Linked DNA regions of Homo sapiens: region 2 is linked to region 1. The links come from fine-mapping of genetic effects on gene expression. Tissue or cell type: whole blood. Region 1 holds a variant in brackets; the other region holds the start of a gene. All regions are shown on one strand. Distances are from middle to middle.

Evidence for each region.
Region 2: TOR1B starts here. The variant in region 1 is fine-mapped to the expression of TOR1B in whole blood (INTERVAL, PIP above 0.99). The same link has a PIP of 0.9 or more in nasal epithelium.

Annotation. Positions count from the first base shown.
Region 1 is chr9:129,820,137-129,829,756 of GRCh38, reverse strand. TOR1A (torsin family 1 member A) reads left to right here and starts at 5,621. Exons shown (of 5, transcript NM_000113.3): 1 at 5,621-5,849; 2 at 6,911-7,176. The coding sequence starts at 5,672. C9orf78 (chromosome 9 open reading frame 78) reads left to right here. Exons shown (of 9, transcript NM_016520.3): 7 at 216-352; 8 at 454-552; 9 at 1,505-2,467. The coding sequence ends at 1,596. RefSeq lists silencers at 1,413-1,707, 6,147-6,236 and an enhancer at 5,427-5,736. The variant T/C (reference allele first, on the strand shown) is at 3,755.
Region 2 is chr9:129,797,727-129,807,346 of GRCh38, reverse strand. It overlaps TOR1B (torsin family 1 member B), which reads right to left and starts at 4,163. Exons shown (of 5, transcript NM_014506.3): 1 at 3,936-4,163; 2 at 3,009-3,274; 3 at 1-159. The coding sequence starts at 4,134. RefSeq lists silencers at 3,774-3,893, 3,954-4,083.

The DNA.
Region 1 (9,620 bases):
TTTGCTCTTGATCAGAAGAGCAGAGTAACTGTGGTTCTCCGACAGCCGTGAGAGTCCCGTGAGAATGTGACTACAAGTGTGCTTGATAAAGTGGAGAGCTGTGCCCCAGGACACATGATTTTCTTATGTACTGCTGGGCTGCCAGCCTCACCACTCATGTCTGAGTAGTAAGGTGCTATCATCTTCTAAGTGGTGTGGTTTCTTTCTCTCCATAGTGCTAAAATAAAAAATATCATTTCCACGGAGGATGCCAAGGCCCGTCTGCTGGCAGAGCAGCAGAACAAGAAGAAAGACAGCGAGACCTCCTTCGTGCCTACCAACATGGCTGTGAATTATGTGCAGCACAACAGATGTAAGCCCCTCGGAGAGCAGTCTTGCCCCCATTCCCCTATTTGGGCTGAGATCCCTAGGAACCTCATGTTCTAACGTGTCCCCTGGTCTCTTTGGGTCCAGTTTATCATGAGGAGCTCAACGCGCCCATACGGAGAAACAAAGAAGAGCCCAAGGCCCGGCCCTTGAGAGTAGGTGACACGGAGAAGCCAGAGCCTGAGCGTGAGTGCAACAAAGGCCTCGGGGCTGCCTGGAGTGCTCAGCAATGTGGGAACCCATGGAGGCAGGATGCAGCGGGGGACAGGGTGGAGCCTGGCATTGGAGCCGGGGCATATGGGTTCCAGTCCATGCTCTGGACCATGACTATGTGCCTTCCCCTTTCTAAGCCTCAGTTTCCTCATTGGAATCCTAATAGAACCTACCTGTTAGGATTACTCTGAGAATTCATACTCTCTCATATTCTCACGCACAGTAGAGACTCAAGAAGTTAGAAAATTTCAGTAAGGACAAATAAAAGCTACTCATAAGGTTAGCTGGGTGCAGTGCCTCACACTTGTAGTCTCAGCTGCTGGGGAAGCTGGGACAGGAGGATTGCTTGAGACTAAGAGTTCAAGGCTGCAGTGAGCTATGATTGGACCACTGCACTCTAGCCTGCGTGACAGAGTGAGACCACATCTTTTTTTTAAAGAAAAGAAAAAGGTATTGGCCATGCTCGGTGGCCCATGCCTGTAATCCCAGCACTTTGGGAGGCAGAGGCAGGCAGATCACCTAAGGTCAGGAGTTCAAGACGAGCCTGGCCAACATGGTGAACCCCGTCTCTACTAAAAATACAAAAATTAGCCAGGTGAGGTGGCAGGTGCCTGTAATCCCAGCTACTCAGGAGGCTGAGGCAGGAGAATCACTTGAACTCGGGAGTTGGAGGTTGCAGTGAGCTGAGATCATGCCATTACACTCTAGCCTGGGCAACAGGGTGAGACTCCATCTCAAAAAAAAGAAAAGAAAAGAAAAAAAAAAAGACAAATACGTATCTACTGAGGCCCTACTGTGTTCACTGGGTTAGGCGCTGGGGCTCCTGTGGGGAAGGAAACAGGCAGTTGTCTTTGCCTGCATGGAGTAAAGTCTAGCAGTGGGTTCCAGCATGGCAAACCACCTTTCCTGTTCTTTTCCTTCTCAGGGTCCCCTCCTAACCGCAAGCGTCCTGCTAACGAGAAGGCAACTGATGACTATCATTATGAGAAGTTCAAGAAAATGAATAGGCGGTACTGAGTTGTGCAGAGTGGGATGTAAATATCGCCTTCCTCTCCCTATATCCCTCCCATGAAAAATGGCTTCCTGGCCGGGCGTGGTGGCTCCTGCCTGTAATCCCAGCACTTTGGGAGGCCGAGGTGGGCGGATCACCTGAGGTCGGGAGTTTGAGACCAGCCTGACCAACATGGAGAAACCCAGTCTCTACTGAAAATACAGAAAAGTTAGCCAGGCGTGGTGGCACATGCCTGTAATCCCAGCTGCTCAGGAGGCTGAGGCAGGAGAATTGCTTGAACCCAAGAGGCGGAGGTTGTGGTGAGCCGAGATTGCACCTTTGTACTCCAGCCTGGGCAACGAGCAAAAAACTCTGTCTCAAAAAAAAAAAAAAAAAAAAAAAAGAAAAAGAAAAATGGCTTCCAGGACAGAGCATGCTCATTTGCTGGCGGACAGTTCCAGAAACAGACCCTGTTAGTCCTTCTACTTACCTGCTGGATTTTTCAAGCACTAAATTTATAACTTTTTGAAACAAAATAATGTGTAATTTTCCATTTGGGGGCAAACTCTATTCTTGTGAGCATTATTAAATCTTGTTTGTAAATATATTGTCTTTCTCTTAATATTTGCTCTGGGTCAGGAAGAAGCTGTTCACGGTGTGATAATACTCTTTAGATTGTGCTTTCATTATTATAGATGCATCATGTCTTCTGCTTTCACGTGTCTGGGATGGGGTCAGAAATGCATCCTCCAGCTGACAGAAAAATCCAGGATGAGATCAGAAGGATACTGGTGTTTTCTGACTTTTACAAAATTACTTGTTTGTTTTCATTAAAAAAAAAGCATAAACTATGTTTCTTATTACTATTAGAATTATTAAATTTCAAAATGAATCCAACCTTATTGTTTGTATTATGTTTCTTATACCAGCATCAGGTAATGTTTTTAAAGCCCATGGTTTGGGTAGCCTAAATGTAAAACTGAATTACTGAGATGGATTTTCTCATTTATTTCAAACAGTGAGCTATGATTGGACCACTGCAGCATAGACATGCTGCAACCTGCTGTCAAGTACCTTCTTACCTGTGCCCTCATTTTTCCTGAGGCATCCACAGGGGTCCAAAAGAGGAAAGAGCAGATTGGCTGACTTCTGGGTGGATTTAGAGCAGGTATTGTGGTTACAGTGGTTTGGCCCAGGAGTCAGATCTGAGCCCACCTCGCAGCTTACTACTTGTGTCCTTGGACAGATCCTTTTCACTCTTAGCCTCAGTTTTCTCATCTGTAAAATGGAGATTTTTTTTTTTCCTCCACTTGAATATGGTCAGTGAAGGCAGGAACCATGTGTGCCTAATTTTTAAATTTGAATCCCCAGGGCATAGCCCATAATCTGACAGATAGGCAGTCCTCAAAACTATGAATGATCCCTATAGTGTTTGGCTTGTAACAGGTGCACAAAAGTATTTTAAATCCAATACGAAAAAGTCGAAACTTAAAAAATATTTTCAGGATATTTCAACAAACATTTACAGGTCCCAGCGATGTGCAGGGGTAACCCAAGATGAATACTAAAGGCCTAGCACATCTGGCACACAGCAACGCAACACGTGTTTATGGGATGAACAGGCAAATAAGTGGATGGTCAACAGTTCTCACTTGCCAGAGTTCCCTTTGCTAGAAAATGAGTAATCTTTTATCCAGCTTAAAAGTGGCTGCCAGATGGAGGGAGCTGGTTCTCTCACTGTTGGGGTGGGAATTCACAGATAAACAAGGGGAGGAGGCTCCAATGATCTGTGTAATGGATTAGAGTTGGAGATGTCAGCACGAGCTCATGTTTAGCTTAATATAGGTACAGATGTTTACCTATAAAAATATTTATAGATATGTGTGTGTTTAACAGTATATACACACATTTTTTTCTGTCAGCTGAGACTGAAAGAAATGACATCTCAATAGCAAGAAGCACACCTAGCACCCAGACCTTGGTTTCTCTTTTTTTTTTTTTTTTTTTTTTTTGATACGAAGTCTCGCTCTGTCACCCAGGCTGGAGTGCAGTGGTGCGATCTCGGCTCACTGCAACCTCCACCTCCCAAGTTCAAGGAATTCTCCTGTTTCAGCCTCCCATGTAGCTGAGACTACAGGCACACGCAACCATGCCTAGCTAATTTTTTTGTATTTTCAGTAGAGA[T/C]GGGGTTTCACCATATTGGTCAGGCTGGTCCCAAACTCCTGACCTCAGGTGATGCACCTGCCTCAGCCTCCCAAAATGCTGGATTACAGGCATGAGCCACCATGCCCAGCCAGTTTCTAATGCCATTTTACAATGAAAGGAATCAGGGTTCCTCGTAGAAAATAGGATTCTAGGACTGGGGCAGGAAATACAAGATGAGCCCGGAGTATCCTGTAGTGTCAGAAAGGAAAGAGGCACTCAAACCCAAATAAGCTGGTATATACACTGGGTGTATGTCAAAGGAGCACAAGGAACCACTCAAATTCCCAGTGGCCAAAATGAGAACAATTTGAAAAAAAAATTAGTACTGTAGTATAACAAAGGATAAAATAACAATGGTCCACACTGATATAAATGATTGAATACATGGGGGAGAAGAAACAAATCTCCCATGCAGAATTCCAAATAATTTCTGTAGATACTCTGCCCCCAAGGAGGTGGAGCAAAATCCCCGACTCCTTACGTGTGGGCTGTGCATGGGGACGTCCTTCCAAAGAGTACAGTAGAGAAAAGAGGGGTGGGGGGACCTGACAAACACTACTTCAGTCAAGTGATCAAGTCAGCACCAACAGTGGTAAGTAACGTTGAACAGTAAGAACCCTTCCTTGGTAGGATGTGATGAGCATAGCACTTTACCTCTGTGATCTTCCTTCCAAAACGCCATAACGCTTGTCTAATCCTGAGAAAAACATCAAATCCCAATAGAGGGCCAGCCCACCAAAGATTTGGCCAGTACTCCTCAAAACTATCAAGGTCATCAAAAATAAAAAGCTGAGGCCAGGCGCGGTGGCTCACGCCTGTAATCCCAGCACTTTGGGAGGCTGAGACGGGCAGATCATGAGGTCAGATCAAGACCATCCTGGCCAACATGGTGAAACCCCGTCTCTACCAAAAATACAAAAATTAGCCGGGCATGGTGGTGTGTGCCTGTAATCCCAGCTGCTCAGGAGGCTGAGACAGGAGAATCGCTTGAACCTGGGAGGCAGAGGTTGCAGTGAGCTGAGATCATGCCACTGCACTCCAGCTAAAATAAAAATAAAAGGCTGAGACACTGTCATTAACAGTAGTCTAAGACATGACAACGAAATATAATGTGGTATCCTGAATGGAAACCTGCAGCAGAAAAAGGCATTAAGTAAAAGGAAGGAAATCTGAATAAACTACACTTTAGTTAATATGACAACAGTGCATCGTTAATTTTAACAAATGTAGCACACTAATAATGTAAGATTTTAGTAATAGGGGAAATTGCAGGGATGGGTGGCACATGGGAACTCTCTACTATCTTCTCAATTTTTCTGTAAATCTGTTCTAAAAAATAACGTCCGTTATTATTATTATTATTATTATTATTATTTGCGGGGAGGGGACACAGTCTTGCTCTGTCTCCCAGGCTGGAGTGCAGTGGTGAGATCTCGGCTCACTGCAATCTCCGCCTCCTGGGTTCAAGCGATTCTCATGTGTCAGCCTCCCCAGTAGCTAGGGCTACAGGTGCCTACCACCACACCCGGCTAATTTTATATTTTTAGTAGAGACGTGGTTTCACCATGTTGGTCAGGCTGGTCTCGAACTCCTGACCTCAGGTGATCCGCCCGCCTCAGCCTCCCAAAGGGCTGGGATTACAGGCAGGAGCCACCATGCCTGGCAAAAATAACGTCCATAAACAAAAACACGTGGCCAACAGGGGCGGAGCAGAACCGAGTTTCCGGAAGCAAAACAGGGCTTTGTACCGAACAAAGATGGCGGCCGCCGGCGTCGGGAGGAGGGCTGCCCTGAAGAAAGATGGCCTCCGCGAGAGGAGGAACCGGAAGCGTGGGTCTGGCGGCTGCACCGGTTCGCGGTCGGCGCGAGAACAAGCAGGGTGGCGCGGGTCCGGGCATGAAGCTGGGCCGGGCCGTGCTGGGCCTGCTGCTGCTGGCGCCGTCCGTGGTGCAGGCGGTGGAGCCCATCAGCCTGGGACTGGCCCTGGCCGGCGTCCTCACCGGCTACATCTACCCGCGTCTCTACTGCCTCTTCGCCGAGTGCTGCGGGCAGAAGCGGAGCCTTAGCCGGGAGGGTAGGCTGGGGCGGGGGCTGGAGGCTGGGGCTGGGGCTGGGGCTGGGCGATGGCACTAGGGCTGAACTAGGACCAGGGCATGGAGAATGGAGGATGGAGGCCGGGGGATGGCACCAGGGCCGGGCTAGGACTAGGGCTGGAGCGGGGCCTGGGGGCTGGGGCTGGGCGATGGCACTAGGGCCGGGTTGGGGCTGGGGCTGGGGCTGGGGGATGGAGCGGGGCCCGGGGGCTGGGGGTGGGGCTGGGGGATCGCACTAGGGCTGGGTTAAGACCAGGGCGGTTGGCTGGGGCTAGGGGATTGAGGATGGTGGATGGAGGCTGGGGGATGGCAGTAGGGCCGGGCTAGGACTGGGGCTGGAGCGGAGTTTGGGGGCTGGGGCTCAGGAGCGGGGGCTGGGGCTGGGGCTGGGGCTGGGGGATGGCACTAGGGCCAGGCCGGGGTAGGGGTCACATCCCAGGAGGGCCGGGCCTGGGCAGAGCTGAGTCCGCGGGGGCCGGACCCCGGAAGCCAAGCGGCCGGCCTGCAGGATGAGGCCTGGCTCCTCGGCCATGACCACAGACGTGCCAGACTTAAGTCGGAGACCTGAGGAGCCAGGCTGCAGGTTGGCCTACTTTGCGCTAAGCTGGGGGTGGACCAGTGGTAACCTCCCTCCGAAGTGGGTTCTGCCTCCTTTCTAGCCTAGCGGGAGACAGGAAGGATGGTGAGGACTCTTCCGCAGCCGACCAGGAGGGACCAAACTGTTTCCTTTCCCGGCTCTGCCTTGGGGTGGGAGGAGCAGCACAGGGGTTAGGGGTGCAAACTGGTGGCAGTGGCAGTGGCACCAAGGGGCTTTTCGGGAAGGAGTCGGGCCAGGGCTTTAGAATAGGCAGGACCAGCAAAGGGAGGGCTCCCTGGACCGCCGTCCCCTCTGGGCCAGGAGCTTACAGACCGCAGTACTTGAGGTTTCGCAAGGTGCTTGGAGGGCGTCTAGACGGCTTTGCTGGCTTTCTTATGGGCTGTAAATGTGGCTACATTTTGCCGCTGTTTCTTCCCCACTCCTGATTGGCTTTGTCTTTCCCAGCACTGCAGAAGGATCTGGACGACAACCTCTTTGGACAGCATCTTGCAAAGAAAATCATCTTAAATGCCGTGTTTGGTTTCATAAACAACCCAAAGCCCAAGAAACCTCTCACGCTCTCCCTGCACGGGTGGACAGGCACCGGCAAAAATTTCGTCAGCAAGATCATCGCAGAGAATATTTACGAGGGTGGTCTGAACAGTGACTATGTCCACCTGTTTGTGGCCACATTGCACTTTCCACATGCTTCAAACATCACCTTGTACAAGGCAAGGATGGAAGTTTGGAATCCCTTCCTGGATGTCATCGGGTTTGGGGTCTCTTTGTTGTGGGATGAGATTTGGGAGTTCTATGTTGAAATGAGTGAGCCCGGAAAACGGTTCATGTCTCAGTTCCCCTTGGAAAGGTGTAGAAGTTAAGAGTTTGAGATGCGTGGAGCAGTTAATACCATCAAAGCTTTGTGGTGGGTTCTGAAAATCGGTCCAGTGAGTATGTAGGGTCATGGGATTTTAGAGGTGGACATGATCAAATCCATCTTAGAGATCAACACATCTCACTCATTTTTTTATTTTTTTCTTTATTTTGAGACGGAGTTTCACTCTTCTTACCCGGGCTGGAGTGCAATGGCATGATCTCAGCTCACTGCAACCTCTGCCTCCCGGTTGAAGCAATTATCCTGCCTCAGCCTCCCGGGTAGCTGGGATTACAGGGTCCTGCCACCATGCCCAGCTAATTTTTGTATTTTTAGTAGAGATGGGGTTTTGCCAACTTGGCCAGGCTGGTCTCGAACTCCTGATCTCAGGTGATGTGCCTGCCTCAGCTTCCCGAAGTGCTGGGATTACAGGCGTGAGCCACCATGCCTGGCCACATCTCACTCATTTTGTGAAAGAGGAAACATGTAGAGTCCTAAGTTTGTTGAACCTACTGTTGTAAACTGCCTTTTTTTTTTTTTCTTTGAGTCAGGGTCTCACTCTGTTGTCCAGGCTGGAGTGCAGTGACGCCATCTCAGCTCACTACAGCCTCCACCTTCCCGGTTCAAGCGATTCTCCTGCCTCAGCCTCCCAAGTAGCTGTGACTACAGGCATGTGCCACCACAGCCGGCTAATTTTTGTATTTCTAGTAGAGATGGGGTTTCCTCACATTGGCCAGGCTGGTCTCGAACTCCTGACCTCAAGTGATCTGCCTACCTCAGCCTCCCAGAGTGCTAGGATTACAGGCGTGAGCCACCTTGCCCAGCCGCAAACAGCTTTTATGGTTGAACTCACTGATGAGCAGCTTGGGCTTTGGCAGCAGACACATCTGGATTTGAGTCCTAACACTCTCCCAGCTCCGTAGTCTTAGGAAAGTTGCCTGACCTGAGACTCAGATTCTGACTTACAAAGTGTTGCTTGTAACAATCCAGGGAGCTCTGTCTGTCAAGTGCATAACATGTACCTGGTGCATGTTACAAATAAATGTTAACTGTTGCCTTTTAGATCCTTGTAGCAGACCTGCAAGATGGGCAAAACAGTCAATTATTTATTTATTTATTTTTGAGACTGAGTTTCATTCTTGTCACCCAGGCTGGAGTGCAGTAGCACCATCTGGATCTTGATCTCGGCTCACCGCAAACTCTGCCTCCCGGATTCAAGTGATTCTGCTGCCTCAGCCTCCCAAGTAGCTGGTATTACAGGCACCTGCCACCACACCCAGCTAATTTTTGTATTTTTAATAGAGACAGGGTTTCACCTTGTTGGCCAGGCTGGTCTCAAACTCCTGACCTCAAGGTCATCCAGCTGTCTCTACTTCCCAAAGTGCTGAAATTACAGGTATGAGCCACCATGCCTGGCCTCAATCAGTTATTTATCCCTGACTGTATCTATGGAAAAATGTGAACACATTTTTCCCTTCTGTCTGGGTGAGCGTGTGGGTCACCCACTGTCCAGCGGTTCTGTACTAAAATGCGAATGTTCCACGGGTGTGGTGGCTCATGCCTATAATTCTAGCACTACGGGAAGCCAAAACCGGCTGATCCCTTGAGCTCAAGAGTTCCAGACCAGCCTGGGGAACATGGTGAAACCCCATCTCTACTAAAAAAATACAAAAAAATTAGTCAGGCATGGTGGCATGCACCTGTAGTCCCAGCTACTTAGGGGGCTGAGGCAGAAGGATGGCTTGAACCTGGGAGGTCGAGGCTGCAGTGAGCAGACAGCCACTGCAGTCCAGCCTGGGTGACGGAGTGAGACCCTGTCCCAAACAAACAAGAACCATTCTAGACGAATCAGGATAAGTTGATCATCTTAGAATTGAGGCTTCACTAACAATAACTGTGACTTTGGGCAAAGTTACTTCACTTGTCTGTGCCTCAGTTTTCTCATTTGTAAAAGAAGGAGCACAATGGTAACTACCGTGATGGGTTTTGGGAGGTCACAGTAAAATGTTCTATGAACAGACCAGGTGTGGTGGCTCGCGCCTGTAATCCCAGCACTTTGGGAGGCCGAAGCGGGTGGATCACAAGGTCAAGAGTTCAAGACCAGCCTGGCCAAGATGGTGAAACCCCATCTCTACTAAAAATACAAAAATTAGCTGGGCGTGGTGGCAGGTGCCTGTAGTCTCAGCTACTCAGGGGGCTGAGGCAAGGGAATCGCTTGAATCTGGGAGGCAGAGGTTGCAGTGAGCTGAGATCATGTCATTGCACTCCAGTCTGGGTAACAGAGCGAGACTGTCAAAAAAA
Region 2 (9,620 bases), 22 kb after region 1:
GGCTTTGCGGTAAGACACTCCGTCAACCTGCTCGTAGTAGTCTAGAAACGGCTTGATTGCGTCAATGATCCCGGGGTGCAATTTATCCATCTCGTCAAATATGAAAACAGAGTTCGCACATGCACTCACATTACCGCGGATCCACTTCTGTAACTGGTCCTGGACCAACCATGAAAGAAGAAACAGGATGCGAAGCTCAAAGGGTGCACCAAGAGGCGCGCAGGCTCCATCTGCTCCTCATGCACTGAAGGACGAGGTCAGAGCTCTTAGAATGGCACCCTCACCCCCACTCGCTAGGTAGCAGCTTTTCTAAAACCTTATCTCTAAAAAGTGGAAATTGGCAGAGATAGATGCTAAAATGCAGAGAAGTTTTTTCCTAACTCAAATGACTATTAAATCTGACTTTTTAAAGGTATAAGAGGTACAAGATCCGTGATTCTTTTCTTCTCTTTTTTGTCTTTGGAAACAGGGTCTCACTCTATCCCCCAGGCTGGTGTGTAGTGGCGTGATCTCAGCTCACTGCAACCTCTGCCTCTTGGGTTCAAGCGATTCCCCGGCCTCAGCCCCCCGTGTAGTTGGGACTACAGGCGCCCCGATCCCCTGCACCATGCCTGGCTAATTTTTGTATTTTTAGTAGAGACAGGGTTGTGCCATGTTGGCCAGGCTCGTCTCAAACTCCTGACCTCAGGTGATCCACCCACCTCACCCTCCCAAAGTGCTGAGATTACAGGAATGAGCCACCCGGCAAGATCCGTGAATATCATTCACTGCTAACGTAGCCATAGTTTTCATCTCTCTTGGACTACAATCTCAAGTTAGTACTATCAGACATACTGAGGAATAAGGAACTAGATCAAGACCTGCACAGTACACAGTGCCCCAGACCAACAGAGCTGACTCAATGACATTTCATGAAAAGCATCTGTTCCAGATGTTTTCTTCAAACAAACATAAAGACACTCAAGCAACAAGCCCTCAACCCCAAAGCGTGAAAGGCTATACCAGGAAACTCCCCCAGACATGCCCTCAACCATTTATATTACTCTGTTTCCGGAGATTTATGAAGAATGTAAAGAACAAGAAAATCCTTCCTTCCTTCCTTTTTAGCAGTCTTCCCTGTCTCACGTCAGTTTGTTGGGCAAACACTTCTACTTCCTTGTTCAGTTAAGTTTCTATTTCTTTCTTCAGTCCCCACCTAACAGGAGGAATTTTTTTTTTTTTTTTTTGAGATAGAGTCTTACTCTGTCGCCCAGACTGGAATGCAGTGACATGACCATGGTTCATTGTAGGCTCAGCCTCCCGGGCTCAAGCGATCCTCCCATCTCAGCCTCCCAAGTAGCTGGGACTACAGGTGCATGCCACTACACCTGGCTAATTTTTTTATTTTTTGTAGAGATGGAGTCTTGCTATGTTGCCAGTGGGAATGTTAACCTTGACAAGGACAACATTCATTTAAATGAGAACTAACCCTCCTAGACAACTTAATATAAAATGAATGTGGAAACAATATCTCAAAAGGAGAAACAGTCTCAAGGTTCAGTTCTTTGAGGCTTCCTTTGAAGAAAGCAATGCCAAGGACATGAAGGATGGGAGGAACAAAGGGAATAAAACCTGTTAAGGAGAAAAAAGACCTCTAGGCTACATTGCAAAGAGCAGAGGCAAAGCTGAGGCTGCACCAGAGGTGGGCAGCATTGAATGAAGCCACACCGGAGCAAATCCTTGAAGACTGACTGCCCCTTCTCACCAACTGCACTGCTGGGGATGTGGAATCCCTTCACTCACCAGAGAAGGTGGCTACCATGTCAACTGGGAGTTGGGAGGTTTTGGTTCTGCTACAAAGGTCCTGTTCTGCTACAAAGATTGTAGGAGTAAGTCACCTTGCCTCTGGGCTCCAGGCTCCATCTTTTTTTTTTTTCTTTTTTTTTGAGACAGAGTCTCATTCTGTTGCCCAGGCTGGGGTGCAGTGGCCCATTCTCAGCTGACTGCAACCTCAGCCTCCCAAGTAGCTTGAATTACAGGCGCACGCCATCACGCCCGGCTAATTTTGTATTTTCAGTAGAGACGGGGTTTCTCCATGTTGGTCAGGCTGGTCTCGAACTCCCGACCTCAGGTGATCCGCCCGCCTTGGCGGATCCCAAAGTGCTGGGATTACAGGCGTGAGCCACTGCACCTGGCCCTGACTACATCTCTCTTTTTTTTTTTTTTTTCTGAGACAGAGTCTCACTGTGTCGCCCAGGCTGGAGTGCAGTGGCGCGATCTCGGCTCAGTGCAAGCTCCGCCTCCCGGGTTCAGGCCATTCTCCTGCCTCAGCCTCCCGAGTAGCTGGGACAACAGGTGCCCGCCACCATCCCCGGCTAATTTTTTGTATTTTTAGTAGAGACGGGGTCTCACCGTGTTAGCCAGGATGGTCTCCATCTCCTGACCTCGTGATCCGCCCCCCTCGGCCTCCGAAAGTGCTGGGATTACAGGCGTGAGCCACTGTGCCAGGCCTTTTTTTTTTTTTTTTTTTTGAGACCGAGTACGGTGGCGCGATCTCAGCTCACTGCAACCTCTGCCACCCAGGTTCAAGCGATTCTCCTGCCTCAGCCTCCCAAGTAGCTGGGATTACAGGTGCGTGCCACCGTGCTCAGGTAATTTTGGTACTTTTAGGTAGAGATGGGGTTTCACCATGTTGGCCAGGCTGGTCTCAAACTCCTGGCCTCAAATGATCCGCCCGCCTCGGCTTCCCCAAAATGCTGGGATTACAGGCGTGAGCCACGGCGCCAGGCCCTTGGCTCCCCATCTTTTAATGGAAATAACATCCCCTACCCCACTGGACTGTTTTGGAACCAAGTAAGAGAAATGTTGTAGGAGAGCTTTGTAACTACCTGGACTAAGTGTGCCTTAACTCAGTGGAGCCGGGGGCTACAGCAACACAAAGGAAAGAGAAGCAGAGGCCAGAGTTAGTGAGCAGGTCACCCGGACCAGTCCGACTGGCCTGCAGACGAGATAATAGCGGGTTCTCTTGCCTGGTACAGTTTTATCTTCTGCTCATGAGGGAAGTGCAGAGTCGATACAAACAGGTGGACAAAGTTACTCTTCAGACCTTTTGGGTGAAGATTTTCAGCCACAATTTGACTGACAAAATTCTTGCCTGTGCCAGCCCAGCCGTGTAAGGAAAGGGTCAGTGGTTTCTTGGGATTTTTGTTGTTCCTGAAGCCAGTCAGCGCCTTGAAAATCACTTCCGTGGCTAGATGCTGTCCAAACAGCTTCTCCTCCAAATCCAGCTTGAGAGCTGCAAGAACAGCCCCAGAACAAAGAGAGAAACAGACCTTAAAAATGCATCAGCAACGCAGCACTTTCTTAGCTGGCCAAAGCAAGAAGCACAGATTATCCAGGGACACAGCAGGGTGTCTGCCACACCCTAGGGCCGAGGCAGTCAAACGATGCCACTTTCAAGATTATGTGGAGGTCCTTAACGCTTCGGGGTCTGATAAGGAAGCTAAATGTTCATTCATTCAGAGATGAACCATCGCTTGACTGAGCGCTTGCTAATCCCAGCCACCCTTGCTGACCTGCAGGAAAACCAGGGGCCAAATGTGGGCTTTCTGGGCGACGCAGCACGTCTGAAAACTACTTAATAGGGTTGGCAGGGCGCAGAAGGGCCGCCCGCCTACTTTCCGTTTCTTCCACCTGTGATCCCAAGGAACGGGAGCTTTAGAAAGGCGCTGGGGCAGCCCCACGATCTGGAGACTGTTTGCGAAGGCACCGCTTCTGCGTTCCCGCGAACGGTTCCGGGGCCGCCCCATCCGCTCCCCGCCCACCCCAGCTGGGACCACCGCCGTCTAGATGCCACGGGCCCGGTCCGTGCCAGGCGCCCACGAGGCCGTCCCTCCGCGCCCCCGCGCCCCCGCGCCCCCCGCAGCGCCGACCCACAGCTCGCGCGCGCGCCGTACCCGAAGCGTTGAGCGGCCGCTCCTCGCGGCAGCACTCGGCGAAGCGGCAGTAGATGTCATTGTAGGACAGGTAGCCGGTGATGGCCGACGCGGCCCCGATGGCTAGGCCCACGGTGATGGGCTCGAACGCCGCCACCACTCGGGCCGCCAGCAGCAGCGCCAGCGCCGCCGCGCCCCGGAGCCACCCAGCCCGCAACATCCCGCTCCTCGAAGCCCGCAGAAGCCACTGAGCCAGGCGCCCCGCGGCCAAGCGGCAGGACGGACTTCCTCTCGTGCGTCACTTCCGCCCCGCAGACCCGCCCACTCCCTTGGGGGCGGCCATGTTGGTGAGGGGCGGAGAGGAGGGCGGTGCCATCGTTCTTGGGAGTGGTCCGAAGGTGTAGGAGACTGTTTTGTTTCCCTTTTCTTTTAAAAAAATTTTTTCGGGCCGGGCGCGGTGGCTCACGCCTGTAATCCCAGGACTTTGGGAGGCCGAGCCGAGATCACGCCATTGCACTCCAGCCTGGGCAACAAGAGTGAAAAAATATCTAAAAAAAAAAAAAAAAATTTTTTTTTTTTGGCCGGGCGCCGTGGCTCACGCCTGTAATCCCAGCACTTTGGGAAGCTGAAGCGGGCGGATCACCTGATGTCAGGAGTTCGAGACCAGCCTGCTCAACGTGGCGAAACCCCGTCTCTACTAAAAATACAAAAAATTAGATGGGTGTGGTGGCGGGCGCCTGTAATCCCAGCTACTCGGGAGGTTGAGGCAGGAGAATCTCTTGAACCCAGGAGGCGGAGGTTGCAGTTAGCCGAGATCGTGCCACTGCACTCCAGCCTGGGCGACAAGAGCGAAACTGTCTCAAAAAAAAAAAAAAAGGCTGGCCGGGCGCGGCGGCTCACGCCTGTAATCCCAGCACTTTGGGAGGCCGAGGCAGGCGGATCACGAGGTCAGGAGATCAAGACCATCCTGGCTAACACAGTGAAATCCCATCACTACGAAAAATAGAAAAAATCAGCCGGGCATGGTGGCGGGCGCCTGTAGTCCCAGCTACTCGGGAGGCTGAGGCAGGAGAATGGCGTGAACCTGGGAGGCGGAGCTTGCAGTGAGCCGAGATCGTGCCACTGCACTCCAGCCTGGACGACAGAGCGAGACTCCGTCTCAAAAAAAACAAAAAAAAGCCAAAAAAAATTTTTTTAAACTTTCTTATATTTTTTTCTTATCTGATATGTATATTGGGGACAGGGTCTGGCTCTGTCGCCCCGGCTGGAGCGCAGTGGCAGGATCTCGGCTCGCTGCAAACTCTTCCTCCCAGGTTCAAGCGATTCTCCCATCTCAGCTGCTGGAGTAGCTGGGATTATAGGTGCCCGCCAACACGCCCAGCCAACTTTTGTGTTTTTAGTAGAGACGGGGTTTCGCCATGTGGCCCAAGCTGGTCTCGAACTCCTGACCTCAAGCGATCTACCTGCCTCCGTCTTCCAAAGCCTGGGGTTACAGGAGTGGGCTTATGGCTGGATTTGTTTTCTTCAGAGCTTCTCGGAGCCCTCAAGCTTTGCTTTGTTATCCCTCCCTTCACTTCGCCGGAGGTATAATGTGCGTTTCTTGGGTCGGCCCACCCGCCTGCCTTCTTCCTGAAACAGTTGCGAACTCTCCGTGCTGCGCCCTAGACTGAGCACTGGGGATGCAGCGGCCCCAAGACAGACCTGCCCAGGCTTCCACACTGAAATCCCGAGGTCCATTCTTTCATTCAGCACGCTAGGTGGCAGGCCCCTTGCTGGATGCCAGGAACGACAGCAGAGGAGGGGACGGAGTTGGCCCCTGCCCTCTCAGAGCTGACGGTCTATGGGGGAGGCCGACAAAGGGGTGAGACTCAATGCTGAGTGGGCAGAGAAGTATCGGACAGTGGTACAGGGAAGGCTTTTGTCTAAGCTGGGCACTGAGGGAGTTAGGCCAGGCAAAAAATGAGTAGAGTGTTTTAGGCAGAAAACAACAGTCAGTTTGGAGAACTGAAAGGATTCCACATGGCGGAAGGTGGTGAGAGATAGGGATGAAGAATCAGGCAGAGACTGGAAGGTGAAGTCCTTGCGAATGTTGTAAGGAGTTTGGCCTCTGTTCTGGGGGGTAATAGGGAGCCACAGAGGGTTTTACACAGGAAGCAACATGGTCAGATCAGAGATCATTCTGGCTGCTGGGTTCACAAGAAATGGAAGGCAGAGAGCCAGTGAAGAGGCTGTTGCCGTGGTCCAGGTAACTAGTCAGGGAGACAGATGAGCAAGCAGGCAGCTTATGTCCAGGGTGGGCCAAGGCTGTAATGCAGGATGCACAGAGGCCTGTGGGTGGGGAGGGATCTTCTCCTCCCTATCTCAGTTGCGATCTAAAGAATGAATGGAAGGGCCAGGTGCACTGGCTCATGCCTGTAATCCCAGGACTTTGGGAGGCCGAGGCAGGCAGGTCACCTGAGGTCAGGAGTTCGAGACCAGCCTGGCCAACATGGTGAAATCCCGTCTCTACAAAAAATACAAAAATTAGCCAGGTGTGGTGGTGCGCGCCTGTAATCCCAGGTACTCGGGAGGCTGAGACAGGAAAATGGCTTGAACCCAGGAGGCAGAGGTTGCAGTGAGCCAAGATTGCGCCACTGCATTCCAGCCTGGGCGACAGAGCAAGACTCCGTCTCAAAAAAAAGAAGAAAAAAAAAAAGAATAGAAGTTGGCCGTGGGAAGTGGCTTAAACTTTTTTTTTTTTTGAGACAGCAGCTCACTCTGTTGCCCAGGCTGGAGTGCAGAGTGCAGTGGCATGATCTCAGCTCACTGCAGCCTCTGCCTCTTAGGTTCAAGCAATTCTCCTGCCTCAGCCTCCGAGTAGCTGGGATTACACGTGTGCATCACGATGCCCAGCTATTTTTTTTTTTTTTTTTTTTTTGAGATGGAGTCTCGCTTTGTCACCCAGGCTGGAGTGCAGTGGCATGATCTCCGCTCACTGCAACCTCTGCCTCCTGGGTTCAAGCCATTCTCCTGCCTCAGCCTCCCCAGTAGCTGGGATTACAGGTGTGCACTACCATGCCCATCTGTTTTTAGTAGAGACGGGGTTTCACCATGTTGGCCAGGCTGGTCTCGAACTCTTGACCTCGTGATCTGCCCACCTCGGCCTCCCAAAGTGCTGGGATTACAGGTGTAGCCACCGCGCTCGGCCTACTTTTTGTAGTTTTAGTAGAGATTTAGTAGAGATGCAGTTTCACCGTGTTGGCCAGGCTGGTCTGGAACTCCTGACCTCAAGTGATCCGCCTGCCTCGGCCTCCCAAAGTGCTGGGATTACAGATGTGAACCACCACTCTTAGCCCACAAACTTTTTATAAGTAATTAAATAACTAAAAGTGTATGGAAAATGTATCTCTTAATAGGATGGTTGGGGTTCTCTTTTTTTTTTCCATTTACTTCATATATCCATAGGAAGAAATTACTAAGTGACTTTTCCCCTTTCCAAGTAGCCAGAGTCCAATGGGAAAGGGGAAATGAGAAGGAGCATGGGGCCGCTGGGGCCACCGGTGCCATACCCAGGGAGGAAAGAAGAAAGAGGTTGAGTTTCTGGAATTAGGATCCTTAGAGTGATCCACTCTTATGCACCCTTAGGAAGTCTTCACCTACCTCAGAGGGTCACATACCCCAGGCTGAAGAGGCCTGGCCTAAGGCAGGAAAGTCCCACCACAAGGAATGTCACCACCACTGCCCGAAAGAGTCAGGCTGTCCCGGCATCTCTCCAAGGGCCGTCTAACAAGCAGCCTGGCACCCAGGGCCATGCTGTCTGTCTAATTGAAATGCTTCTCCAGCTGACCCTGAGGACCAAGAGGCTGCCTTGGACAAGTCCGGTGTGTTCATCAGGGCGCAGCCACGTGGGACAAAGGGGCAGCTCTGCTGTCTCCAGAGGCTTTGCAGCATCAGGAGTTGGGAGGGAGAAGAGGAGGTTGGGATTATAAATCACAACCTGGTTTGTTCCCTTTCTTCCTAGCTGAGTGGCTCTGGAAATGTGATGCCACCTTTCTGGGACTCAGTTTCCCTAACTGTAAAGTGGGGATCACAACAGTCCCTTCTTGGAGTTGCTGGGGTACCAGTGAGCTGATGCACGTGGAGCACTTAGCACCGCATAGAGTAAGAGTTCAACAGGAACCATTTGCTGGGACTATCACCTCCTTTGACCCTCTCAACCATCCTGTGAAGTTCACAAGTCAGGAGAGACAGTTTAGCTCACAAAGGAAATGTTTGTTGTCTTTAAGGATTATACCGGGGTGCTGGCAGGATTTGATGAGTGGTGTTTAGATAGATCTGGAATTACAAAACTCAGTAACTGATATTCATCAAGCAAAATACACACGATGTCCTGCAAGACACAAGTGGATTGGTGCCATGGTTAGTCTCCATTGTGGTGGTCGTAAGAGGTGGAGCCTTTTTCGAGGTGATTAGGCCAAGAGGGCTCTACCCTCATTAATGGAATTCATACCCTTATAAAAAGGGCTTGAGGATGGGCGCAGTGGCTCACGCCTGTAATCCCAGCACTTTGGGAGACCGAGGCGGGCGGATCACAAGGTCAGGAGATCGAGACCATCCTAGCTAACACGGTGAAACCCCATCTCTACTAAAAATACAAAAAATTAGTCGGGCATGGTGGCATGTGCCTGTAATCCCAGCTACTCGGGAGGCTGAGGGAGGAGAATCGCTTGAACCCGGGAGGCGGAGGTTGCAGTTAACTCAGATCATGCCACTACACTCCAGCCTGAGCGACAGAGTGAGACTCCATCTCAAAAAAAAAAAAAAAAAAGGCTTGAGGGGCTGGGCACAGTCACTCACGCCAATCATCCCAGCATTTGGGGAGGCAGGTGGATCATTTAAGGCCAGGAGTTCAAGACCAGCCTGGCTAACATGGTGAAACCCTGTCTACTAAAAAATACAAAAAATAGCCAGGTGTGGTATCGGGTGCCTGTAATCCCAACTACTCGGGGGGCTAAGGCAAGAGAATCACTTGAGCCTAAGAGGTAGAGGTTGCAGTGAGCCGAGATCGTGCCACTGCACTCCAGCCTGGGCAACAGAGCAAGACTGTCTCAAAAAAAGGGCTTGAGGGAACTAGCTCGACCCTTCCACTTCTGCCTCGTGAGGACACAGCAAGAAGGCACCATTTTGGAAGCAGAAGGCAACCTTCACCAGGCACCAAATCTGCTGGCATCTTGATCTTGGTCTCCCCAGCCTCCAGAACTGTGAGAAATAAATTTCTTTTTAATTGTTTTTTCTTTTTAAAAAAATTTTGGCCAGGCGTGGTGGCTCATGCCTGTAATCCTAGCACTTTGGAAGGCCTCGGCAGGCGGATCACTTGAGATCAGGAGTCTGAGACCAGCCTGGCCAACATGGCAAAATCCCGTCTCTACTAAAAATACAAAAATTAGCCAGGCATAGGGGTGCACACCTGTAATCCCAGCTACTCAGGAGGCTGACGCAGGAGAATCCCTTGAACCCGGGAGGCGGAAGTTGCAGTGAGCCCAGATCGTGCCACTGCACTCCAGCCTGGGCCACAGTGTGAGACTCCTTCTCAAAAAAAAAAAAAAGTTTGTAACCTATTTATGTTATTTTGAGCAATTGTATACTAAAAATAATCCAAAAGAAATATTTAATACCTAGGGTTTTGTGGTCACCAGAAAAAAAAAAAAAAACTATATTAGGTTTTAT